Homo sapiens: one gene and its partners. The protein of the gene in region 6 purifies or fractionates together with the protein of the main gene of each other region. This does not show direct contact. Each region holds a gene or a part of one and is shown on either strand. Other genes may lie near its edges.

Region 1 (3,500 bases), on a different chromosome or scaffold from region 6:
CTGCAGCTGCCTCTCCTTCGCACTCGCCGCTCTGTGTCTGCAGCTGCCTCTCCTTCCCCAGTCGCTGCCCCGTGTCTGGGTCCCCGCGTGCGCCTCTGCCCGAGGCCTCTGCCTGGGGGCGTCTACAGGGTCAGTGTGGGCCGCTGGTCCTGAAGCTCCTGGCCCGAGGGCCAGCAGCGCTGTGGGGCTTCCTTGTTAACACCCGAGCAAGGGCGGGCAGGCCACACGCCTTCCCTCAGGAGCTCCAGGTTCCAGCCCCCAAGGCCTGGAGCAGTTTCCATCCAATCCCGGGCTAGGTGGAGCCCCAGGCTTAGCGGTCGTTCATATACCTCCGCGGGAGCCGGTGCCGCCCAGGTGTCCTCACAGCAGCCACTGCCTCCCGGCCCCTCTAAGAGTCATCCACACTTGCAGGAACTCAAAGCGGCCTGTGGCCTGTGGGGCTTGAGTTTTCTAAAGGATTCCTTTAAGTGTGCTTTTTACCCCAAAAAACCATATGACCAAGACTGTTTCCGAATTACGGTGGCATCTGTTGTGTGTGGTCGACTCATAATACGCCTGGTTCCCCGAACGTGAGCTGCACCCGTCTGCGTCTCCCGGGGCTGGTCCTGGGTCGCGTGGCCGCAGTAGATCCCTGCGTCGGACGCGCACCTGAGCAGACGTAGCATTCCCTGGATTTGTCCTGCGCTCAGTTCAGGGAGCCACCTGCGCCCTGGGCCCCTAACTAGCCACGAGGAGAGCACAGCTCCACAGCGCCGGCCCGTGTGGCCTGGGCCAGCACCTGCACAGCTGGGAATCGGCCCAGAACCAGGCGCTCACTGTCCCTGTGAACCCCCGGCCCGGCGCGGCCCCAGCTTTCCGCGTTCCTCTGGAGCCCACTCTCGGTCCCAGGGCAGGATGCCGTGTGCGGCCGGGCTGCGCTGTTTCTCACGCACTGCGGCCTGAAGCGGGGGGCGGCACCTTGGCTCGTGCGTCCCAGGGACACCGGTGACCGCAGGGATGGCCGCCCAGGCTGCGGGACCTTCTCGTGGCCCAAGCTGACGGCGACGGTGCTTTCACTCCTGCCTCCCGTTGGTGAGGTCTCCCTCCCGCCTCCCGTTGGTGAGGTCTCACTCCGGCCTCCCGTTGGTGAGGTCTCACTCCCGCCTCTCCTTGGTGAGGTCTCACTCCGGCCTCCCGTTGGTGAGGTCTCAATCCCGCCTCCCGTTGCTGAGGTCTCACTCCCGCCTCCCGTTGGTGAGGTCTCCCTCCCGCCTCCCGTTGCTGAGGTCTCCCTCCCGCCTCCCGTTGGTGAGGTCTCACTCCCGCCTCCCGTTGGTGAGGTCTCCCTCCCGCCTCCCGTTGGCGACGTCTCCCTCCCGCCTCCCGTTGGCGACGTCTCCCTCCCGCCTCTCCTTGGCGACGTCTCCCTCCCGCCTCCCGTTGCTGAGGTCTCCCTCCCGCCTCCCGTTGCTGAGGTCTCCCTCCCGCCTCCCGTTGCTGAGGTCTCCCTCCCGCCTCTCCTTGGTGAGGTCTCCCTCCCGCCTCCCGTTGCTGAGGTCTCACTCCCGCGTCTCCTTGGTGAGGTCTCCCTACCGCCTCCCGTTGCTGAGGTCTCACTCCCGCGTCTCCTTGGTGAGGTCTCCCTCCCCCCCTCCCGTTGCTGAGGTCTCACTCCCGCGTCTCCTTGGTGAGGTCTCACTCCCGCCTCCCGTTGCTGAGGTCTCACTCCCGCCTCCCGTTGGCGAGGTCTCCCTCCCGCCTCCCGTTGGCGAGGTCTCACTCCCGCCTCCCGTTGGCGAGGTCTCACTCCCGCCTCCCGTTGGCGAGGTCTCACTCCCGCCTCCCGTTGGCGAGGTCTCACTCCCGCCTCCCGTTGGCGAGGTCTCACTCCCGCCTCCCGTTGGCGAGGTCTCCCTCCCGCCTCCCGTTGGCGAGGTCTCCCTCCCGCCTCCCGTTGGCGAGGTCTCCCTCCCGCCTCCCGTTGGCGAGGTCTCCCTCCCGCCTCCCGTTGGCGAGGTCTCCCTCCCGCCTCCCGTTGGCGAGGTCTCCCTCCCGCCTCCCGTTGGCGAGGTCTCCCTCCCGCCTCCCGTTGGCGAGGTCTCCCTCCCGCCTCCCGTTGGCGAGGTCTCCCTCCCGCCTCCCGTTGGCGAGGTCTCCCTCCCGCCTCCCGTTGGCGAGGTCTCCCTCCCGCCTCCCGTTGGCGAGGTCTCCCTCCCGCCTCCCGTTGGCGAGGTCTCCCTCCCGCCTCCCGTTGGCGAGGTCTCCCTCCCGCCTCCCGTTGGCGAGGTCTCCCTCCCGCCTCCCGTTGGCGAGGTCTCCCTCCCGCCTCCCGTTGGCGAGGTCTCACTCCCGCCTCTCCTTGGCGAGGTCTCACTCCCGCCTCCCGTTGCTGAGGTCTCACTCCCGCCTCCCGTTGCTGAGGTCTCACTCCCGCCTCCCGTTGGCGAGGTCTCACTCCCGCCTCCCGTTGGCGAGGTCTCACTCCCGCCTCTCCTTGGCGAGGTCTCCCTCCCGCCTCCCGTTGCTGAGGTCTCCCTCCCGCCTCCCGTTGCTGAGGTCTCCCTCCCGCCTCCCGTTGCTGAGGTCTCCCTCCCGCCTCCCGTTGCTGAGGTCTCCCTCCCGCCTCCCGTTGCTGAGGTCTCCCTCCCGCCTCCCGTTGGCGAGGTCTCACTCCCGCCTCCCGTTGGCGAGGTCTCACTCCCGCCTCCCGTTGGCGAGGTCTCACTCCCGCCTCCCGTTGGCGAGGTCTCACTCCCGCCTCCCGTTGGCGAGGTCTCACTCCCGCCTCCCGTTGGCGAGGTCTCACTCCCGCCTCCCGTTGGCGAGGTCTCACTCCCGCCTCCCGTTGGCGAGGTCTCACTCCCGCCTCCCGTTGGCGAGGTCTCCCTCCCGCCTCCCGTTGGCGAGGTCTCCCTCCCGCCTCCCGTTGGCGAGGTCTCCCTCCCGCCTCCCGTTGCTGAGGTCTCCCTCCCGCCTCCCGTTGCTGAGGTCTCCCTCCCGCCTCCCGTTGCTGAGGTCTCACTCCCGCCTCCCGTTGCTGAGGTCTCACTCCCGCCTCCCGTTGCTGAGGTCTCACTCCCGCCTCCCGTTGCTGAGGTCTCACTCCCGCCTCCCGTTGCTGAGGTCTCACTCCCGTCTCCCGTTGGTGAACCTTTGGTTGAAACGTGTTTGTTTCCGTGATCACACTCGAGGTCTCTCTCTCCGTCTGAAAGCTGTACCTTTGAGGCCTGAATATTCTGCTCTTTACAAGTCGGTCTTGGAGCCGCGGTCAGCTTTGCGCTCTGTGGATTTCATGCTGGACTTGGCTCTGCTCGACGGGAAAGCGTGGTGGGCCCCTAGGATGGGCCGTGCAGGGGCATCGGGGCCCCGGGGCTCTCCCAGACCCAGGCGTCCTCTCAGCTTTTCGGTCCCCACCGCATCCAGTCTCGGCTCCGGGGGGTGGTGACGTCGGGGCCGAGGCACGGTGCGGGCTGCCCATCAACCGCATTCCTTTCCAGCCCTTTCTACCAAGATGATAGACA
Region 2 (3,500 bases), on a different chromosome or scaffold from region 6:
TAACCCATCTTTTCAGATCTGCTCCATGAAGAAGCCACCTTTATTACAAAGACATGATTGTGGTATTTACTGTTAAAATAATGTCTAATTCTTATATAGCATTAAAAGTATTCTAAACTGGCTTTATGAGGTAGGTAGTTTTATTGTCCTCATTTTACAGAAGAGGAAACAGTGGTACTCCATTTGGATACTGGGTAAGACTACACTGAAACAATGTTACAGAGGCCTCAAAAGTATTGATGTTTTTTGGGTGTGGGGTAAGTGAATAATGGAGATTGGAGCTGTCATTGGTCAAACACTAATCAATTCGGGTCTAGGGTTTGGGTCACACATCATTGACTCAAGAAGGTCTCTTTCCCTGACTGAGCCCACATCTCCGTGGTAGAGGTCAGAGTGCCCTGCTCTTTCTCTATCACAAGGCGTTTCACACTTGATTATCCTTTGTTGTTTAACTGCTATTTTCCCCCACAAGACTCTGAGCTCCACAGTGGCAGGGGCCTTGTCTTATTCACTGCTATGTACCCAGTGCACAGACACGTGACATTGCCCAATTCATTCAGGCAACCAATATTTAATGAGACTCTACTATCTTCCAGCACATTTCCAAGTGCCGTGGATGTGGGTTGTTTTGTTTTGAGACAGGCTCTTGCTCTGTCACCCAGACTGGAATGCAGTGGTGTGATCTCAGCTCATCGCAGCCTTGACCTCCCAGGTTCAAGCTATCCTACCACTTCAGCTTCCTGAGTAGCTGAGACCAACAGTGCGTGCTATCAAACCTGGTTAATTTTTGTATTTTTTGTAGAGATGAGGTCTCACTATGTTGCCCAGGCTGGTCTCAACTTCCTGGCCTTAAGCGATCCTGCCACCTTGGCCTCCCAAAGTGCTGGGATTCCAGGCGTGTACCACAGTGCCTGACCCAAATGTGGGTTGTTAAACGAAATGGATTAAATCACTGAATTAAATGAAGAACAAACAGGGTGATGAGTAAAATGGGGGAGGGAGAGGAAGTAAACATGAGTCCCCTTTAAGTGGGGACTATTAGGCAGAAGAAAAGCATCAGTTCCTAAACCCCAAGTAAATGGGAGGAAAATAAACATTTTTTGCAGGTTTTTATAATGCTGGGCAGTGGGTTAAACATCTCTGAGATTTTTTTTTTTGTTTATTCTTCACAAGTGATTATTAGTTCCATTTTACAGAGCTTAAGAGGACAGGTGTCTTGCTCAAGTTTCCTCAGCCAGTTTGAACAAATTGGAACTCGAATTAAGCTTTAGTCTGGTCACTTCAGAGCTCCATGCTCTTTTCTCTATATGTCTATTAAAGATACAGGCCTTAGTTTAAAGGCAATTTCCCATTCAGTCCTTTAAAATGACATTTTCCTCTATATCCTATAATTTCCACAGTATCAGAAAAACATCAAATTGTGATAACGACCAACTGCTCTTTTAGAATAGTTGTAATTCTAAATTGATAGGAGAGTCCTAACCTGTGCAACTCCTCAATTATGGTTAATTTAGAGCATAGAAATAATGCAGAAAACTCTTATAACTCAGAAAATAGTGGAGACGATCTTTCAATGTCACAACTGAGCACAGAGATTAAGGAAATATTATTACAGGCTAAGCATCCCTTATCTGAAACACTTGGGACCCTAAGTGTTTGGGGTTTCAGATTTTCTTCTGATGTACAGGTTGAGCATCCCGAATACAAAATTCTAAAATGCTGCAATGAGAATTTCCTTTGAGCATCATGTTGGTGCTCTAAAAGTTTCAGATTCTGGAGATTTAAAAAATTTTTAATTTTTGTGGGTAACATGGTATATATGTGATATTTTGATACCAGCATAGAATGTGTAATAATCACATCAGGGTAATGAGGTATCCAACACCTAAAGCATTTATTCTTTGTGTTCCAAACAATCCAATTATACTCTTTTAGTTATTTTATTTTTTGAGGTGGAGTCTTGCTCTGTCACCCAGGCTGGAGTGCAGTGGCGCGATCTTGGCTCACCGTAACCTCTGCCTCCTGGCTTCAAGTGATTCTCCTGCCTCAGCCTCCCGAGTAGCTGGGACTACAGGTGTTCACTACGATGCCCAGCTAACTTTTATATTTTTGGTAGAGACGGGGTTTCACCATGTTGGCCAGGCTGGTCCTGAACTCCTGACCTCAAGTGATCCATCCGCCTCAGCCTCCCAAAGTGTTGGGATTACAGGTGTGGGCTACCGTGCCCAGTTCTCTTTTAGTTATTTTAAAAGGTACAATTAAATTATTATTAACTACAGTCACCCTGTTGTGCTATCAAATACTAGATCTTATTTGTTCTATTTTTTTTTTTGTATCCATTAAACATCCCCTCTTCTCCCCTACGTCTTCACTTTCCATCCAGCCTCTGGTAACCATCCTTCTACTCTCCATCTCCATGAGTGTGATCGCTTTAATTTTTAGCTCCCACAAATAAATGAGAACATGCAAAGTTTGTCTTTCTGTGCCTGGCTTCTTTCACTTCACATCATGACCAGATGTTGGAGCATTCTGGATGTTCCACCTGTACTACTACACACTTAGATTAGATTTTGTTCATGAGTGTTTTAAGAATTTTGGATCATTTCAACTATTCTGGGCTACTGGGTTTATTTTATAATTTTCAAAGGTAATTTAGTGATATGAAAGGTGAGGAAAAATACACCTGGTCAGAACAATACAACATAGACTTTGGTGTCTTACAGTGGACCCAGGAAAGTGAAATAGCAGAGAACGTGCCTTCCATGAAGCCAACTTCTAAAGTCCAAGGTGTGCCTGAACCTTAACTCCCATTTCATAAATCCATATAAGATTCTGTGAATTTATCTAACCCCTTTGAATTAGTGAGTATTTTGAATTTGTATATTCTTTTGGTTTGAATTTAGATTACTATCTTTTCTCTAGTTTTTAGCCCACATATCACTGTACTGGCAATCCAGATTCAATGAATAGTGAATGAGTGCTTTATCCAAAATGAAAAATACATACATATATATTTTTTTCTTTTGCACGCATACACACACACACATATTTCTCCTGTATATGTTCTAATATACACACACATATATATTTATCCTACCAGGGTGGCTCCACTTAGAAAGCTATTTTTAAAGGTGACTCAGTGAAGATGAGGGAAAACTAGACATGAAAGCTTCAAACAGCAACCAGGGGAAAAATAAAAATCCGGGATGCTCTGTTCAGTGGCAGATACCAAGCCCTGGCCTCTGTGTTCTTTATATACCTAGGCACAGGATATGGGGTGAAAAGCTTTAAGGTAAAGTCTCATAAATACGACTGTGGTGGCCAGTTGTAGCTTAAAATAGCAAAATGAAAAAAAAATCTGTCTTGCTTTTCAAGACTGACTGGGACAGGTGTAATACAAGAAGCTGTAGCAGGGCACAGGGTAAGTCTTGATTGGAAGAAATTTTCCAGGTGGTAAGAAAATAAAAAACAGGAAATCAAAATACAGAAAGAAATCCTAA
Region 3 (3,500 bases), on a different chromosome or scaffold from region 6:
CCCAGGCTGGAGTGCAGTGGTGCAATCTCGGCTCACTGCAAGCTCCGCCTCCTGGGTTTAGGCCATTCTCCTGCCACAGCCTCCTGAGTAGCTGGGACTACAGGTGCCCACCATCATGCCGGGCTAATTTTTTTGTATTTTTTTAGTAGAGACGGGGTTTCACCGTGTTAGCCAGGATGGTCTCCATCTCCTGACCTCATGATCCACAAGCCTTGGCCTCCCAAAGTGCTGGGATTACAGGCGTGAGCCACCGTGCCTGGCCTTTTGAGGTCTTAAAACTCAATAACCCCTAGAAGTTAGAGGGAGAGAAGTAGAAAGAGAGGGGCTGATGATTGGTTTTGAGGTTCTAGCAGATTTTAATCAGCAGTATTGAATAAGCATCTGATATATGTAACTTGGGAGCATGGCATGACTGTACCTTTTTCAGATTAGTCAGAAAATGGCTTCCTGATGCAGACAGGGCAGATTAAGCTTTGAAGGGCTTGGCAGTAAGAAAGGGAGGCAAGAACAGGTGAGGGAAAGACCAGAGGGGATTAGCATAAACTACAGTGAAATTGGATTGTGTGGAAATTGAAATCTGGTAAGGATGTCAGCATCATAATGGAAACAGAGTGATCTCATTGAACACTTGGGTTTGTAGAATTTCTGAGTTTTAAGTGTTGAAAGGTTATCATCAAGACCATCTATACCAGCACTGGCACTAGAAATATAATGCAGGCCACAAATGTAAGCCATACATGTCATTTAAATTTTCTAGTAGCCACATTTAAAAAGAGTAAAAAAAAAAAAAAACAGGTAAAAATAATTGTAATATATTTTATTTAACACAGTATATCTAAAATACACCATTTCATCTGGGCGCAGTGGTACATGCCTGTAATCCCAGAACTTTGGGAGGCCACGGTGGGCAGATCACTTGAGGATCAGGAGTTTGAGACCAGCCTGGCCAACATGGTGAAACCCCATCTCTACTAAAAATACAAAAATTAGCTGGGCATGGTGGTGGGTGCCTGTAATCCCAGCTACTCAGGAGGCCAAGACAAGAGAATTGCTTGAACCTGGGAGGGAGAGGTTGCAGTGAGCTGATATTGTGCCACTGCACTCCAGCCTGGGCGACATAGCAAGACTCTGTCTTAAAAAAATTAAATAAAATACTACCATTTCAACATGTACTCACACACATTATTTAGATATTTTCCATTCTTTTTTTATACTAAATCTTCAAAATCCAGTGTGTGTGAATGAAGAAACAAGTTCATAAAAGCCCAACACAAATAGTTACAGAATGCCCTGGACTCCTTATTTTAGGAGTCCTTTCTCTGTACTCTGCTACGAAGATTTTACTTATGACAAAGACCTTGAAAATGATTTTGTCAAAGGCGGAAGTTTCAAATGCAGTGACCTCAGGCAGCGCAGGAAGTATCTGAAAGAGTTAATGAACTGAGAGGAAAGATAGGTCCACTGATGGCTAATCAAAGGATCTAATGGACCATGAGCCAGGTTTTGCCCAGGAGGGTGCAAGGTTGAAGGGGAGAGTAAGAGAAAAAGTTGGCATCTGGAGGAGAAAAATGTATGAAATGGATGAGGCTGAGGACTCAGCGGTATTTGTCTCTCCTACCCATTTCCATCTTCTGTTCAACCACTCAGGCAGCTGAACTCTCCATCAAGTTTCTGCCTCCCCAACGTAATATGGAAGTCGTTCTGGCTGTAGGACCCCAGCTGATTGGAATTGGAAAGCACAGTGCAGTAAGTAGGATGCTGAGATGGAACAGAAATAGATTTCACAGAGATGGGTGCAAGGGTGACATCTACACCCAGGAAGGTGTGTGAGGTGGGCCTCCTGGTGGGCATGGCTTGCAGTCCTGGGGAAACAGATGGGAGAGCTCACAGTGGGAAGACTGGGAGCGAGGAGAAAGTCTCCACGCTGATTTCCCACTGTGCAGGCTGCAGAGCTCTATCTGAATCTGGACCTTGTCAAGGAAGCAATCGATGCTTTCATCGAGGGTGAGGAGTGGAACAAGGCGAAGCGTGTAGCTAAGGAGTTAGATCCCAGGTAAGCTTGTAACCCCTTCTTACTGCGAAATTCTCTTTTACTTCCTTTTGTAAAGACTGGGAGAAAGTCTTACCGGGAGGGTTGGTATTCTGGAACATGAAGATGGAGCTCTCTGAACATCTTCACAGGTATGAAGACTATGTGGACCAGCATTATAAAGAGTTCCTCAAGAATCAGGGCAAAGTGGACTCGGTGAGACTTGGAGAGTTAGCAGGAGGCAGAATGCAGGGAGAGACTCACAAGACTCTCTCCCTCTTCTTTCCCTCATGTCATCTCTTTTCTCTTGTAACTCTGTCTTCCATTGACCCAGCTGGTGGGTGTGGATGTGATAGCTGCTTTGGACCTGTATGTGGAGCAGGGCCAGTGGGACAAGTGCATTGAAACAGCTACCAAGCAGGTACTGCTCTCTTCCCATTCCCAGTTTTTCTTTACATTTTCCCTTGATTCCCCACCTGCCTCAAAGATGCATCTCTTCTACCTCCACAAAAACCCAAAGCCCAAAGATTTCTAATGGGCATCAGAGAAGCTCAGTCTGAAACTGGGGTCAGAGGTTTGCGTACACCCTTTTTCCCCTCAACAAATACATGGCCTCAAGTCACCTCACTGCTTGGTCTTGCCGATCCCAGCCTCACTCATGCTTTTCCTCCACCCCTGTACAGAACTACAAGATTCTGCACAAGTATGTGGCTTTGTATGCAACTCACTTGATCCGGGAGGGTAGCTCTGCCCAGGCATTGGCCCTGTATGTACAGCACGGAGCCCCTGCTAACCCACAGGTACCAGCCTTCTCCTTGGGTTGAATGTTTCCACAAGAAAGCTCTTTCTCCTCTAGAACCACCTATCTTCTCAGGAACTATCTTCTCAGAGGATTCTATCCTTAGAGAACGTCATGCCCAGAGCCCCCCACGCATCTCCAGAAATGTACAGCCTCTCTGGAGGCTGTGTATTTGCTAAGAGCATGGGGAGGTTTGCAGAAACTTCCAACTTCTGTTTGAAGAAACACCCGTGGAGCTCCCCATGCTGTTAGCAAATACACAGGCACCTGTCTTTCAGAGATGAATCCTGCATACACCTCTAGGGCCTTTATTGACTTCCTCCAGAGAATGAACACTGCTCCCTGATCTGAGTCACAATGTTGTGACTCTGCATTTACATTTGTACAGTTGCCCACACTCACACAGCACCAGCTAAGAAAGTTATTTCTTCCTCTTTTCTCTTTATCAAAAATAATCAGCACTTAAAAATAATTTACTTCATTAAAAATAATCAGCACTTAATAATCTGCCACTGTTGGCCGGGCGCAGTGGCTCACGCCTGTAATCCCAACACTTTGGGAGGCCGAGGCAGGCGGATTACGAGGTCAGGAGATCGAGACCATTGTGGCTAACACGGTGAAACCCCGTCTCTACTAAAAATATAAAAAGTTAGCTGGGCGTGGTGGCAGGCA
Region 4 (3,500 bases), on a different chromosome or scaffold from region 6:
TAGATGACAGTGAGACTGTCTCTAAAAACAAAAAAAAATAAAAGTTGTGTTTATACTAATGAGCATATGAGTTTATACTAATGAGTACTATGTTTATAATGCATCTATTAAGTGTACAAAGGCATTATGTTTTTTAACAATATATACATCTTAATTTAAGATACTTTGTTTTGCTAAAACATGCTAACAATCCTCTGAGCCTTCAGCAAGACATAATCTTTTTGCTGGTGGAGGGTCTTACCTCAATGTTGATGGCTGCTTACTGATCAGAATGGTGTTTGCTGAAGGTTAAGGTGGCTATGGCAATTTTTAAAAATAAGACAACAATGAAGTTTGCCACATTGATTGACTCTTCCTTTCATGAAAGGATTTCTCTGTAGCATGTGATCTTGTTTGATAGCACTTTACACACAGTAGAAGGTTTTTCAAAATTGGAGTCAATCCCATCAAAGTCTGCCTCTGCTTTACCAAGTTTACCTAATACTCTAAATCATTTGTTGTCATTCAACCATGTTCACAGCATCCTCCCCAGGAAATTCTATCTCAGGAAACCACCTTCTTCGCTCATCCATAAGAAGCAATTCCTCATCTGTTCCAATTTTGTTATAAGATTGTAGCAATTCAGTCACGTCTTGAGGTTCTACTTGCTATCATCAGGCTCTAGTTCTCTTGCTATTTCCACCACATCTGCAGTTACTTCCTCCATTCAAGTCTTGAACCCCTCAATCATCCATGAGGGCTGGAATCAACTTCTCCAGAACCCCTGTTAATGTTGAGATTTTAACCTCCTCCCATGAATCACAAATGTTCTTAATGACATCTAGAATGATGACTCCTTCCCAGAAACTTTTCAATTGACTTTGCCCAGACCCATCGGAGGAATCACTATCAATAGCTGGTATAGCCTTAGGAAGTGTATTTCTCAAATAGTAAGATTTGAAAGTCGAAATTACTCCTTGATCCATGGGCTGCAGAATGGATATTATTAGCAGGCATGAAAACAACATTAATCTCCCAGTACACCTCCATCATAGCTCTCAGATGACCAGGTACATTGTCAATAAGCAATCATATTTTTAAAGGAATTTTTTTTTTCAGTAGTAAATCTCAATAATGGGCCTAAAATATTCAGTAAACCACATTATAAACAGATGTGCTACCATTCAGGCTTTGTTGTTCCATTTCTAGGGCACAGGCAGAGTAGATCTGGCATAATTCTTAAGGGCTCTAGGATTTTCAGAATGGTAAATGAGCACTGGCTTCAACTTAAAGTCACCAGTTACATTCACTCATAACAAGAGAGTCAGCCTGTCCTTTGAAGCTGTGAAGCCAAGCACTGACTTCTCCTCTCTAACTATGAAAAGTACTAGATGGAATCTTCTTCCAATAGAAGGTTATTTCATCTACACTGAAAATGTGTTGTTTAGTGTATCCACCTTCATCGATTACCTTAGCTAGATCTTCTGGTTAACTTTCTGTAGCTTGCATCAGCACTTGCTGCTTCACCTTGCACTTTTATGTTACAGAAATGGCTGCTTTCCTTAAACCTCATGAACCAACAGCTGCTAGTTTCAAACTCTTCTTCTACAGCTTCCTCACCTCCTTCAGTCTTCACAGAATTGAAGGAAGTTAGGGTTCTGCTCTGCAATACGCTCTGATTTAAGGAATGTGGTGGCTGATTTGATCTTCCATCCAGACTACAGAAACTTTCTCCATATTAGCAATAAGACTGTTTCACTTTCTTATCATTCATGTGTTCACTAGAGTAGTGCTTTTAATTTCCTTTATGAACTTTTCCTTTACATTCAAAACTTCACCAACTGACACAAGAGACCTAGGTGTCAGCCTATCTCAGCTTTCGACATGCCTTCCTCACTATGTTAAACATTTCTAATTTTTAAATTTAACATGAGAGACATGTGACTCTTCCTTTCACTTGAACACATAGATGCCATTGTAGGGTTATTAACTGGCCTAATTTCAATATTGCTGTGTCTCAAGGAATAGGGTAGCCCAAAGAGAAGGAGAGAGATAGGGGAATGGCTGATCGGTGGAACAGTCAAAACCCACACAATTATCAGTTAAGTTCACCATCTTTTATGGATGTGGTTCATGGCACCCCAAAACAATTACAGTAGTAACATCAAGATCACTGTTCACAGATCAGCATATTATCTATATTGTGAGAGTTACCAAAATGTGACACAGAAACACAAGGTGAGCATATGCTCTTGGGAAAATGGTGCCGACAGACTGGCTTGAAACAGGGTTGCCACAACCTTCAATTTGTAAAAAAAAAAAAAAAAAAAAAAACTCAGCATCGTGAAGTGCAATAAAACAAGGTATGCCTGTACTCAAGAGTGGCATTTCATTAAATTCTATCTTCCATAGAGAGAACCGTTTACCTTCAAATCTTAGAACAAATGATATACCAAACATTCAGATACTTACTTAAGATTCCCTCTACAGCATCATGCTGAACAAATTTTATGCCTGAGATTTTAATATCAGCACCAGTGCAGTCCACAAAAGTGTCGCCTTTGCCCCTCTTTTCTATCACAATGTCATCTGGTAGGCCATATCCTAAGGAAGAGAGAGCAACAACACTCAAGATGGGTGAGGAAAAACATCTAAACGTGAACACTGTAGAACAAGTTTCTCTAGTTTAAATGACTGCAGATGATAATGAGACCAGTCAACCATGTTGCATTTAAATAAAATCTATCTCCCCACATATCCTGTTTAATTTAAATCAGGGTATCCAATTTTTAACAATAACAACTCTCTGACTAGTCCCGTATCAGGAAGACTACCCTATCAACTATCCCACATCAGCTCAGTACTAAATTCACTTTCAAAAGTGCTATAAAAAATAAATAATGTTCAAGACCAGCCTAGGCAACACAGTGAGATTCCATCTCTACAAAAACCAAAAAAATTAGTCAGGCATGGTGGCATGCACCAATTACTCACTACTCAAGGAGGCTAAGGTGGGAGGGTCACTTGATCCCAGAATTTTAAGGCTGCAGTAAGCTATGATCATGCCATTGCACTCCAGCCTTCATTCTGGGTGACAGAATGAGACCCCATCTCAAAAAATGATAATAATAATAATAAGGACTTACAGCTGAGTCAAAGAACTTTAAAGCACTCACCCTTAGAAGTTTGTTTCTAACTCTAACATTCTATGATTCTAATATAAATTACATTTGAATAAACCTAAACAGTTCTCAAGATGATCTAATTTTAATATTCTCTTAAACAGTTGGCTTAAAATCTGACAAACTGACTAGTTACAGTTACAGGAAAAAAACAGTCTACCTCATTAACAAATAAAAAGCATCAGATCAAGGCTGGGTACGGTGGCGCACGCCTGTAATCCCAGCACTTTGGGAGGCTGAGGCAGGTGGATCACTTGAGGTCAGGAGTTCAAGAGCAGCCTGGCCAACATACAGAAATCCTGCCTCTACTAAAAATATAAAAATTAGCCGAGTGTGGCA
Region 5 (4,287 bases), on a different chromosome or scaffold from region 6:
GAGTGGTTAAACTAAAATATTTATCGTAAGTATGAATTTGTTCCACAAACATAACATTTCAAAGGTAGCTTTGTTTCCTCTTTCCTTGCACTGCCAGCTATTAACTTTCGGTTCATTAGTCACGATTTTCAGAATCCACTTGGCTGCCACCTTCCTGCAGCCAGACCATCTTGGATCAGAGGGTGGGCCAGCCATTCCCACGTCACACCTGCCACGGGATCGATTTTTTCCCCCATTGACCACAGTCACTTTTTGTCAATTAATTAATGTTATTCACCTGGTACCCATCTTGTGAATGGTAGGTCACTACGGAGCGGATTACTACTTCATATCCCATCAATGACAGAGCCATCATTACGAAAACCTTTTCTGACAACCACTGAAGAGAAACCATCTCCACACCGTGCATTTTGCATCACTTCCGTTGCTTCTTTACCTGATTTATCACAAAGACTATGTACCACACATCTTCTTTATTAATGCATTGACAATCAGTGAAGACAATGAAAACCCACCACTTTTGTCCGTGAACTGAGAAAGAAAATGGCAATGTCATATGGCATTAATGATGCATGAGATCTATGGGTGTAGTGTCACGTCTAGGCGTGTAGTAATCCAGTCTTCGGCCTTACTCCAGGGAGAAAGATTCAGCTTTGTTACTTTCCAGTCACTCTCTCCCGTAACACAGCACCTTGGCACAGAAAGCAGAGCGACAAAACCCAGAATGAGGACAGTTAAAATTCAACTCAAGCTACAGCCATCCCAACGGTCCTCCCCAGCTCCCGCGGAATATTTACCAAGACCGTTTAAAGCACTTAATTAATTCACTTCAGCTTCGCTGGAGAGGTCTCAGGGTTCCCGAGACTCCATTACATAATATCTTTCACAAAGTCTATTCCCAGCTCGAATGGAAGATGGATTCTCATCCAGTGTGCGGAGGTTCCATGCCTTTGCTTCCCTTTCCCGGAGTTCGATCCGGCGATACCCTCCCGAGGCTGCAGCCATCGCCCCGGCCCCGAGCTTCTGGGGTACCCGCCACTCTTCGAACTCCAATCTGGCCCCGAAGGTGCAGCCGCCTCGCCCTCCTGGCTCCCAGGCCGGCCGCTGCGGCCACGGTGCCAGCGAGCGCCCGGGACACCGCGACTCTCGCTGCTCGCTGGGTGCGCCCCAAGCCCATCCGCAGCGCACCCGCGGCGCCGGGGCCAGAGCCGCAGCTCGGTGGCACGGCCGGCTCGGTGCGCCGGGCTCGGGGAGGAGGAGATCGGGAAGAGGTGGAGGCGTGTGAGGGAGGGAGGAAGGGCCCGGCCGCCCGAGAGGGGGAGGGGGAGGCGGAGGGGGCCGGCCGGGCCGGGGAGGGGGGGCAGCCAATGAGCGGCGCGCGGCGCGTGGGGGTGGGGGGAAGGTCTGGGGGAGGAGGTAGGATGGGGGAGGGCGCAGCCCGAGCGGCTGAGGCTCCAGCCATAAACAAGCGCCCGGAGGAGCGGCGCAGGAGTGAGGCGAGCGGGGCGCGCGGAGCGGACGCCGCGGATCTTGTGCTGCGCCACCGCGCCCACTCGGCAGCTCGGGAGGCGGGGACCGGCCCGGAGGCTGCGCCGCTGCGGGGCCGGCCGACTCGGAGGAGGAGAGGGAGGAGGCGCCGCCGGCCCGGGCTGGAGCCGAGCGCAGCAGCCACCGCCGCCGCCGCGCCAGAAGTTTGGGTTGAACCGGAGCTGCCGGGAGGAAACTTTTTTCTTTTTTCCCCCTCCCTCCCGGGAGGAGGAGGAGGAGGAGGAGGGGAAGCTGCCGCCGGCGCCAAGGCTCGTGGGCTCGGGGTCGGCGCGGCCCGCAGAAGGGGCGGGGGCCTCGCCCCGCGAGGGGAGGCGCGCCCCGGGGGCCCCGAGAGGGGCGGTGAGGACCGCGGGCTGCTGGTGCGGCGGCGGCGGCGCGTGTGCCCCGCGCAGGGGAGGGCGCCCGCCCCGCTCCCGGCCCGGCTGCGAGGAGGAGGCGGCGGCGGCGCAGGAGGATGTACTTGGTGGCGGGGGACAGGGGGTTGGCCGGCTGCGGGCACCTCCTGGTCTCGCTGCTGGGGCTGCTGCTGCTGCTGGCGCGCTCCGGCACCCGGGCGCTGGTCTGCCTGCCCTGTGACGAGTCCAAGTGCGAGGAGCCCAGGAACTGCCCGGGGAGCATCGTGCAGGGCGTCTGCGGCTGCTGCTACACGTGCGCCAGCCAGAGGAACGAGAGCTGCGGCGGCACCTTCGGGATTTACGGAACCTGCGACCGGGGGCTGCGTTGTGTCATCCGCCCCCCGCTCAATGGCGACTCCCTCACCGAGTACGAAGCGGGCGTTTGCGAAGGTACGGCCGCCCGCTGCGGGCCCCCTCCCACCTGGCCTGCGCCGCCCCCTCGGCGCTGGTTGTGCCGAACAAAGTTTGGGCGAGACTTTCTGGAGGAAAGAGGGCTCTGCGGGAAGAGGGGCGGCCGCCGCCCCCAGGAGAGTGCCCCCGCGGCCCTGCGTTCCCTCTCCTTGTTCCCCCCGACGCTTAGGCAGTCGCGGGCGAGGTTGGGTATGGTGGGTGGGGGCGAGCGAGTGGAGGATCGCCCCTGTCCCCGCGCAGACGCGCACACGTGTGGCCGTTCCTGCTGGGACTGGGTGGCCCGGCCTTGCTCCCCGAGGTGGGGGCGCCGCGGGCGGGGGGCACTGCAGATTCTGCCGCGCGCGAGCCCCTCGGGGAGCCCGGCCCTACCGCCCTCCCCGCACTGGCGCAGTGTGGCACCGTGAGCCGCACGCCGGCCGCGAAAGTCCTTTTTCTGTTGGCGGAGGAGACGTGTCTCCAGCTCGCACTCCCCGAGTGACTCTTATTATTTTTTCCTTGAGCTCTTCCTTCACCCCTTCCTCCTCCTCCGCAGATAAATCAGTTTCAGCCGCGGAATATGTCAGCCCAGGGGAAGTTACACACGGTGGTTACTCATTTATTTGCCCATTGTAAACGGTCAAAGGCTTTCTCTCCTGAAAGGAAAGGGGGGTGGGGGTTGCACCTGGGAGTAAAAAGTTGTTGCTATTAGTGGCTGCTTTTTAATATCAGATACCCGCGTGTTTCCTGTCGTGTTGCCGGTTCCTCCTTTTTGTTTGTTTGACAGCGGGGATTGTTCTGCTGGCTTCTCCAGCACGCATTGTGCTCCGCGGTGTCGAGATTGACGGTGGGAGAAACAGATTAGATTAGTGGAGTCTTTCTCGTTGGGGAGCCAATGTTAGTGCGTGTTGGCTTTAATCCCTGCCCGCTTGCGTCGGCCTTCAGGGTGCCTGGTCTGGTTTGGGGTCTAGAGCGAGGCAGTGAGTTATTTTGATGTGGCTAACGGGGGCACGGTTCGGTAAGCATCAGTTAAAAGTGGGATCCCTGCTCTGGCTGACGTTGGGCTGATGATGCTGTTCCGGGGGCATCCTGGCGAGTGAGCAGAGCGCACGCAGCAGCCTCGTTTCTGGGGAGGCGGCGAGGAGGGACAGGCGCCCTCTGCCCGGCGTGCCTTCCTCACTACTCACAGCCAGCACCGTCCAGGGAACGGTTTATTCCGAAGCATCTTTGTGTGTGTTTGTTTAGTATGCTGGGATACTGAAAAAGGAGGTGACAGCCTTAAGGATAACAATGGACCTATTAAAAGGCTTCAGTGCTGTGATTCTCTCTAAATACGCACAGACACACACATAGGTACTTATTTATACCTGAATAGTTTGGGGTTTGGACAGTTCAGGAAAATAGGGGAGGGTTTTCTGGTTTGGAAGCTAGTGGGCAGTGATGAGTGAAGGGAACTCTTCTCAGAGGGGAGGGACTTGCTCTTGCTTTGCTGCACACGTAAGACATTGGGTTAGAAGAGATCATTTGCCTGAAGTACAAAAAAGCCTCTCACCTGGTATTGTCCCCTTTTATAACTTGTTTTTATGCCTTACCTCAAGAAAAATGGCCATGAGATTAACTTCTGATACCATTGTATGTGTTTTGACTTTGGGAATTCTGAATGACCTAGACTAAAAGATGCATCTTTGAACCCTGCCGCTTCAAGTGTATAACTTAATCCGGCCTCTCGTAAATCTGAAAAGAACAGGCGACATGAAACACAGTTAAATGCAGTGGAAACTGCTGTGTTCCAAGAAGGACTTTTGCAGGTTCTGAAGATTCTAACCCTTGTTTTGTTTCTTCTTAGTCTGTTTCTGGTGAAGGAAGTGCTCAGGGAACATTTACAGTAATCGAGTGTTGTGGCAGCAATATCCCATGTCACAGTATAGAGTTATTTTGGCAGTTTCGTGAGCCTTTC
Region 6 (3,500 bases):
TTCTGCTGTGTCCAGGGAAGGGGGGTCACAGGGGTGCTGGGCACAGAGCACTGGACGTGTCAGTCCTGGCTCTGGCGCGGCCCTGCTTTGGCTGCCGTGGAAGAAGCCTGGCCTGTCCTGGCCACCCACATAGAAGCCTGGCCTGCGGCTGTCATGAGGGCGTTGGCCACAGGTGTGGGCTCTAGTCCTCCTCAGCACACCCAGCTGCCACCACCGTGAGGGATGACACATCCTGTGTCCCCAGCACAGGGGATGGTCCCACAGATGGAATGTGCTAAGACTTCCTTCACCACTCACAGCAGGGCAACAACACAGGCCCCCTGGCCTCTGGGCCATGGCGGGCCAACATGCATGCAATTTCAACTAGGAAAGAACTAAACACACTGCAAACATCCTATTTCCAGTGACAGCTGTGCGAGTAACAGGAACTAGATGGACTGAAACTCTAGAGTGAGGAGAGCCCTTCCTAATAAAGCAGACAGTGCTGCCACTCTCTTTCCCGACAGCATTTGCTGACGACTCTGGGCCCAGGCACAGGGCGGGAGGGCAACCTCAGAACTTCTGAATGTCCACAGGCTGGAAGGGCAGAGACCAGCCCTTCCAGACCAGGAAGGGCTGGAAACCAGAGGACCCCCACATGCATTTTCTCCACAGCACGTTCGCTGAGTTCTGGGGCAACAGAGGGAGCCGGGAGTTGGCTGGAAGCTTCTGACAGGCAGTGTGAAATATCCTGCAGTTTGGGTTACTTAGTAAACAAAGTCTGCCCAGGCAGAACACATGAAGCATGCTACCGAATACCACGCTGCTGTCCAAAAGAAGAAACTGGTGCTAGTGGCCAAGGAACATGAAAAGTATAGAAAGGGGTCAAAGACAAATGCTGACGACAAAGGCAGCCTGGAGGGGGCATGTATAGATGCTGCCCTCTGTGTGAGGAGGAGGAGGGGAGTGAACTCACAGCAGTGGCAGGAGGGGCTGGAGTGCCGAAGGCTTCATTTTCCCTACATAACCTTTTATAGCTTTTGAACAAAGCTATGTGATCATATTACCTATGAAGTCAGTTGCACTATAGGGGAAAAGCCCCACACCCAAGCGGCTAACCCATAGTGGGGCTTGGGAATTCAGGCTGCTGTGGACACTGGCAGGCCCCAGGCCTGTTCTACAGGCCCCACAGGCCTGGCCAGAGCTGTGGCTGCTGTGAGAGGCCTGTTCAGTAAATACATTGGCAGTCAGGACACAGGTGAGCACGGAGGGAGTGGTGTCGGCAGGACAACACAGACCAAGAGGACTCGGATTAACCAGGTGGGGGAAATAAAAAGGCCAAGAGGGGATGCTGGAGTCCTGCAAGATCCCCAAGTCTGCAGGAGCAACTCGACTGGAGTGAGCCGGGGAGGCACAGGTCACCAAGCACACGCTGAAATGTTTCTGACATGAACCTCACTGTATGTTTTCCTAAGTTGGGGGTCAGTTTGATATTACAGGCAATTCTTTGTGGCTGGGGTAAGGAATTCAATGCAAAAAGGAAATTTTTATGTATTTATTTTTGAGATGGGGGTCTCACTCTGTCACCCATGCTGGAGTGCAGTGGTGTGAACATAGCTCACTGCAGCCTCAAACGCTGGGGCTCAAGTGATCCCCTGCCTCAGCCTCCTGAGTAGCTGGACTACAGACTACAGGTGCTACTCCACCCAGATAATTTTTTAAATCTTCTGTACAGGCTGGGCGCGGTGGCTCATCCCCATAATCCCAGCACTTTGGGAGGCTGAGGCGGGCAGATTGCCTGTGGTCAGGAGTTCGAGACCAGCCTGGCCAACATGGCGAAACTTCTTCTCTACTAAAAACACAAAGATTAGCTGGGCACGGTGGCGGACACCTATAACCCCAGCTACTCGGGAGACTGTGGCAGGAGAATCGCTTGAACCCAGGAGGTGGAGGTTGCAGTGAGCCGAGATTGTGCCACTGCACTCCAGCCTAGGCAACAGGAGTTAGACTCGTCTCAAAAAAAAAAAAAAAAAATTCTGTATAGACGGAGTCTTACTATGTTGCCCAGGCTGGTCTCAAACTCCTGGCCTCAACTGATCTTCCTGCCTCAGCCTCCCAAAGTGCTGGGAGTACAGGCGTGAGCCACTGTGCCCAGCCCAAAAAGATTTTAAAAGAAATCTTAGACATTGTCCTGTCCCTTCTAAGACAAGTCACTAAAACGGAGCCCCCTCTCCACCCTAGGCTCCCACAACCCACCCAAGATAAGTCCCGCATCTGCTCCTGCCTCAGTATCCCTGGCTCTGCTCCCAGCACGGGCATGGGGGTCTGACCCAGTCAAGCCAGAGGGACTGGGCAAGGGGCCTTGAGTCCTCTCCCAGGATGAACCCCAGCCTCGGGCTGGCCCAGCTCACCTTTTCCAGGATGCTGCCCCTGGTTCCCCACAGGACTCCCAAAATCCAGGTCCCAGTCGGTGCTGCTGGATGAGGAGAAGCTGGTGGGGGTTCCTCGGGGGGCCAGGGGCCTGCTGGGGCCATCTCTCACACAGCTCTGCAGACCCAGAGGCAGAACAGGCTCTCTGGTCGCTTCTGTAGGGAACAGCACAGTTGTGGTCACCAGGAGGCTCACTGGAGAAGAGACTCCTGGGCCATGGGGTGCACGGGCACCAGAAGACCCTGCCCCAAAGTATCTCCCACTAGGGTTTCCCTGTGGCACTGATTCAACTCCCATAGCACGTGACCCACAGAAACCCCACAGTGAGTCTCGTGACTGGAGAGAGTTCTGAGAGAAGGAAGTAGGGCAGGAAGATCTGCACTGGCTTTCAGCACATGCGGGCGGCTGTTTGGGAGTGAGTATGAAAGGCAGCCTGGGGGAACGGGCCTGTGTCTCAGGAGGCCGGGGAACACAATGACCCGACAGTCCTCAGCATCTGCCTCCGCTGCCACGCTCAGGGACATGCCACCCCGCGCCCATGGCCACAATCTACCTTCACTGTGTGATCTGTGGGGTTGCAGTTCAGGCTTCTGAGACCTAGAGTCTCCTGGCTGGGGGTTCTGGGAACAAGAAGTGGGTGGCAGCTGGGAAGGTGACGACCCATTTGGGGGAATGCCCTTCAGACAGGCTTCCAGGGCTTCCAGCGGTGAGCTTGAGGCACTGGCAGCTGGAACAGGAGAGAGCACCCTGTTACCATCTCCCACACATTCCAGCCTTGCCCATCAGACCCCTGGCTGGCTCTACCCGACGTGCTTTCTACAGGGGTGACGAGTCCTGTACCAGGCTCTGGCACCTGCCAGGCAGGAAACCCTTCTGTGGGAGACTGATCGGCTCTCGCCCCCCACCCTGCTCCCTGGAAGGCATGAAGACAGGAGGGGAGTGAGGAGGGCCACATGTCAGCAGGGGTAGCTTTCAGGGCCAGGAATCACTGCAAAACGAAGGCCCCGAGGCAGCGGGGGCTTGGACAAAGGCCTGGGCTGAGGAGGCTGTGGATGAAGGGATTCACTGCTTGGGAAGAAAGGCCAGGGGGC
Region 7 (3,500 bases), on a different chromosome or scaffold from region 6:
AACATAAGAAAGTTCTCATCATTGCCAGCCATGCTAGTGGGGGGTCATTTTCAGCACCTGGGGTGCTGGGAGTCCTGGGGTAACTGCCGTCCACAGGTCTCAGACTGTCCCCAGTCTGGGTTTTGTTGCAGGCTGTCAGGGTTTTGTACTCACCCGATGCTCCCTGGAGACCTTTGCTCGCAGGAGTGACTGGAGGAGTTCATGTAATCAATTAATGCACCAAAGTCAGGAGAAATGGGCATGGTGACCGTTGTTTTCCTGAAAAGAAGACGGGATGCAAAACCATTAATACAAAATTGAAATCTTAACAGGTTTTGCAGGTTGAACATGAAGCGTGTATAGCCTGGGTCTCTTCCTTTATGGTACAAGGGAGGGACGAGAAGGAGCTGAGCACAGTGTGCTCCTTCCCCTGCCTCCGCACGTGTCCAGCAGGGGAGGGAAGCTGGGTCTGTGGCACCCAGTGGGACTCTGACCAGGCAGAGTGGCAAGAGATGTAACCCGTCTTCAGCCATGTTTTCTTTCTCTGCAGCGAGGAGGTCTGCAAGCGTGGCTTCACGGTGATCGTGGACATGCGTGGGTCCAAGTGGGACTCCATCAAGCCCCTTCTGAAGATCCTGCAGGAGTCCTTCCCCTGCTGCATCCATGTGGCCCTGATCATCAAGCCAGACAACTTCTGGCAGAAACAGAGGACTAATTTTGGCAGTTCTAAATTTGAATTTGAGGTAACTTCCCCCGTGTGGCTAGACCCACTAAACAAGTTGGTGTGGTTTACTAAAAGCTATTGAGGCTAATGAGAGATTTTTTTTTTAAACCACATATTAAACAGGAGCTGCATATCTTACGAACATGTGATACGTAAAATTAGTTACTGCATGAAATAACAGAGCTGCGTTCATCATCCGAGTGGATTGTTTTACCCACATGGGCTTAGGTTTCAGTTCCCTTGGGTTGGGTGATGGGCTGTTGAGTTGTGAGGCCTTGGCAGAGAAGCTTGCTGGCTGCCTTATATTTCACTTGACAAACAGCTTTACCAGGCAGCACTGTGGCTTTGCACAGTTACAGATTCATTCTCCTTGCCTCAGCCCTGGAGATGAGGGAATGTTAGGGAGAAATGCCCAACTTCAGAGTCCCTAAGTTTCATCCTGTCATGGATAATGGAAAGAATGCATGTATTAGGCCTCTGATTTCTGAAAATGGAGATAGTGTGTTAAAAACTGTGCAGAGTCCTGAATTCAGTTAGGCATGGAAGATTGCCGTCTTTCAGTGGTAAAAACAAGACAAAACCCTCAGCCCACTAATTATTTTGCTTCCCACTGTAACCTCCTCTCCTTAAGCTACCAAGGTTCTGACAAGGCCTTCGGTGCAGTTAGTTTAATGAGATGATTATGGGAGGAAAGTCTTCCTGCCAGCATGAAACTTGATTCTTGCTCCATTTGGAATAAGATTTTAATATTTTCTAATAAGAAATACTTTTTGGTTGAATAGATTGCTTCCTCTGGCAAATCTGCTCAAACGTTAGGTTTCAGTGGATGTATTCATGTATTTTAAGGTAAACAGCAATAATATTAAACATCAGACAGTGTTAATCCTTAATCTTCAGGTTATAATGCTATACTTTTCAAAGTGTTTGCACAGGTGTATTACTTGGATTTTTAAATTCTTTCCATAGTACTCATTTTTCTATCCAAAATATGAACTTAGTTTTAAATTTGAAACTACTCAGGTTTACTACACTCCATCAGAAAGATGAACCCAGTAAGCCTTTATCTTCATAGAGAATAGGAAGTAATTTTGGAGGACAGTTTATTGGGTGTTAATTATTTTCTTGATGCAGAATTGAAAGTGCATTGTATTTAATTATAAGTGTTTTAAGTAAAAATAATGGTCTGGCAATACAATTCATACAGGTTTTTCCAGTCCAGTTTTGATCTCTCCCTCAGGGCTCTTAAAGGCACCAGTTTTTCTATGGAACTTGTTACATTGTTACCAGCCTCTCTCTCCCCACCCAGTGATTGCCTCTGTGGAGATTATTAAAAGTCCAGCAGGACCGGGTGTGGTGGCTCACGCCTGTAATCCTAGCACTTTGGGAGGCCGAGGCGGGCGGACCACGAGGTCAGGAGATTGAGACCATCCTGGCTAACACGGTGAAACCCCATCTCTACTAAAATACAAAAAATTAGCCGGGCGTGGTGGCAGGCACCTGTAGTCCCAGCTACTTGGGAGGCTGAGGCAGGAGAATGGCGTGAACCTGGGAGGCAGAGCTTGCAGTGAGCCGAGATTGTGCCGCTGCACTCCAGCCTGGGCAACAGAGCGAGATTCCGCCTCAAAAAAAAAAAAAGTCCAGCAAACGAGAGAGGAATGGGCCTATGGTAGGATTGTAGGCATAAGTGCTGGATCAGGAGTCATCCCTCTTCTACCTCTGCTGCCTTCTGATGTTTCTTTTGCCAACCAGCACGCCGGACCAGCCCTTCTTGTTTTCTCTTTTGGTTCTAGGTCACAACTCTTTCTCCTTCACCTTTGTCTTTGCATTTAATCTTCCCCCTCCATGTTTTCCTTGAGGCATATTAATATTAATCTGCTTCACATCATGATAAGGTGAGGTTAAGATTTCTTGCCGAGGCCAGGCACAGTGGCTCATGCCTGTAATCCCAGCACTTTGAGATTCTAAGGGAGGAGGACTGCTTGAGGCTGGGAGTTCGAGCCCAGCCTGAGAAACTTAGCAAGAGCCTGTCTCTATATTTTGTTTTAAAAATTAGCCAGGTGTGGCCGGGCGCGGTGGCTCATGCCTGTAATCCCAGCACTTTGGAAGGCCGAGGCGGGCGGATCACAAGGTCAGGAGTTCGAGACAACCTGGCCAACATGGTGAAACTCCATCTCTACTAAAAATACAAAAATTAGCTGAGCGTGGTGTAAGTCACCTGTAATCCCAGCTACTCGGGAGGCTGAGGCAGGAGAATCACTTGAAATCGGAAGGTGTAGGTTGCAGTGAGCTGAGGTTGCACCACTGCACTGCAGCATGGGCAACAAGAGCAAAACCCTGTCTCAAAAAACAAACAAACAAAAATCACCAGGTGTGGTGGCACACGTGTAATTCCAGCTACTCAAGAGGCTTAAGATGGGAGGATGGCTTGAGCCCAGGAATTTAAGCTTACAGCATGTAATCATCGCCACACTCCAGTCTGGAAGACAGAGCATGACCCTTTTTTTCCTTTTTTAAAAAAAAAGGTCGTGTGCGATGTCTCATGCCTGTAATCCCAGCACTTTGGGAGGCTGAAGTGGGTGGATCATTTGAGATCAGGAATTTGAAACCAGCGTGACCAACATGGTGAAACCCCGTCTCTACTAAAAATACAAAAGAATTAGCCTGGTGTGGTGGTGGGCACCTGTAGTCCCAGCTACTCGGGAGGCTGAGGCAGGAGATCACTTGAACCTGGGAGGCAGAGGTTGCAGTAAGCTGAGACTGCGCCACTGCACTCCAGCCTGGGTGACAGAGCAAGACT

What was found.
Region 1: the proteins of KRABD3 (region 6) and PPP2R3B purify together in Homo sapiens (affinity purification with mass spectrometry; 2 studies listed by BioGRID and IntAct, with this or other methods). This does not show direct contact.
Region 2: the proteins of KRABD3 (region 6) and JPH1 purify together in Homo sapiens (affinity purification with mass spectrometry; one large-scale study listed by BioGRID and IntAct). This does not show direct contact.
Region 3: the proteins of KRABD3 (region 6) and IFT172 purify together in Homo sapiens (affinity purification with mass spectrometry; 2 studies listed by BioGRID and IntAct, with this or other methods). This does not show direct contact.
Region 4: the proteins of KRABD3 (region 6) and SHCBP1 purify together in Homo sapiens (affinity purification with mass spectrometry; 2 studies listed by BioGRID and IntAct, with this or other methods). This does not show direct contact.
Region 5: the proteins of KRABD3 (region 6) and CRIM1 purify together in Homo sapiens (co-immunoprecipitation; one large-scale study listed by IntAct). This does not show direct contact.
Region 7: the proteins of KRABD3 (region 6) and TRIO purify together in Homo sapiens (co-immunoprecipitation; one large-scale study listed by IntAct). This does not show direct contact.

Annotation. Positions count from the first base shown.
Region 1 is NC_000023.11:341,908-345,407, reverse strand, and holds part of PPP2R3B (serine/threonine-protein phosphatase 2A regulatory subunit B'' subunit beta), read left to right. Parts: intron 1-3,476; coding exon 3,477-3,500. UniProt on the Homo sapiens protein: The B regulatory subunit might modulate substrate selectivity and catalytic activity, and might also direct the localization of the catalytic enzyme to a particular subcellular compartment.
Region 2 is NC_000008.11:74,238,041-74,241,540, forward strand, and holds part of JPH1 (junctophilin-1), read right to left. Parts: intron 1-3,500. UniProt on the Homo sapiens protein: Junctophilins contribute to the formation of junctional membrane complexes (JMCs) which link the plasma membrane with the endoplasmic or sarcoplasmic reticulum in excitable cells.
Region 3 is NC_000002.12:27,448,244-27,451,743, reverse strand, and holds part of IFT172 (intraflagellar transport protein 172 homolog), read left to right. Parts: intron 1-1,647; coding exon 1,648-1,746; intron 1,747-1,943; coding exon 1,944-2,053; intron 2,054-2,181; coding exon 2,182-2,245; intron 2,246-2,363; coding exon 2,364-2,450; intron 2,451-2,712; coding exon 2,713-2,829; intron 2,830-3,500. UniProt on the Homo sapiens protein: Required for the maintenance and formation of cilia. Plays an indirect role in hedgehog (Hh) signaling, cilia being required for all activity of the hedgehog pathway.
Region 4 is NC_000016.10:46,597,380-46,600,879, forward strand, and holds part of SHCBP1 (SHC SH2 domain-binding protein 1), read right to left. Parts: intron 2,584-3,500; coding exon 2,452-2,583; intron 969-2,451; coding exon of another isoform or gene 907-968; exon of another isoform or gene 1-906. UniProt on the Homo sapiens protein: May play a role in signaling pathways governing cellular proliferation, cell growth and differentiation. May be a component of a novel signaling pathway downstream of Shc. Acts as a positive regulator of FGF signaling in neural progenitor cells.
Region 5 is NC_000002.12:36,354,291-36,358,577, forward strand, and holds the start of CRIM1 (cysteine-rich motor neuron 1 protein precursor), read left to right. Parts: upstream 1-1,487; 5' UTR 1,488-2,002; coding exon 2,003-2,333; intron 2,334-4,287. UniProt on the Homo sapiens protein: May play a role in CNS development by interacting with growth factors implicated in motor neuron differentiation and survival. May play a role in capillary formation and maintenance during angiogenesis.
Region 6 is NC_000007.14:149,724,951-149,728,450, reverse strand, and holds part of KRABD3 (protein KRBA1), read right to left. Parts: intron 3,137-3,500; coding exon 2,963-3,136; intron 2,565-2,962; coding exon 2,391-2,564; intron 1-2,390.
Region 7 is NC_000005.10:14,286,342-14,289,841, forward strand, and holds part of TRIO (triple functional domain protein), read left to right. Parts: intron 1-529; coding exon 530-722; intron 723-3,500. UniProt on the Homo sapiens protein: Guanine nucleotide exchange factor (GEF) for RHOA and RAC1 GTPases. Involved in coordinating actin remodeling, which is necessary for cell migration and growth. Plays a key role in the regulation of neurite outgrowth and lamellipodia formation.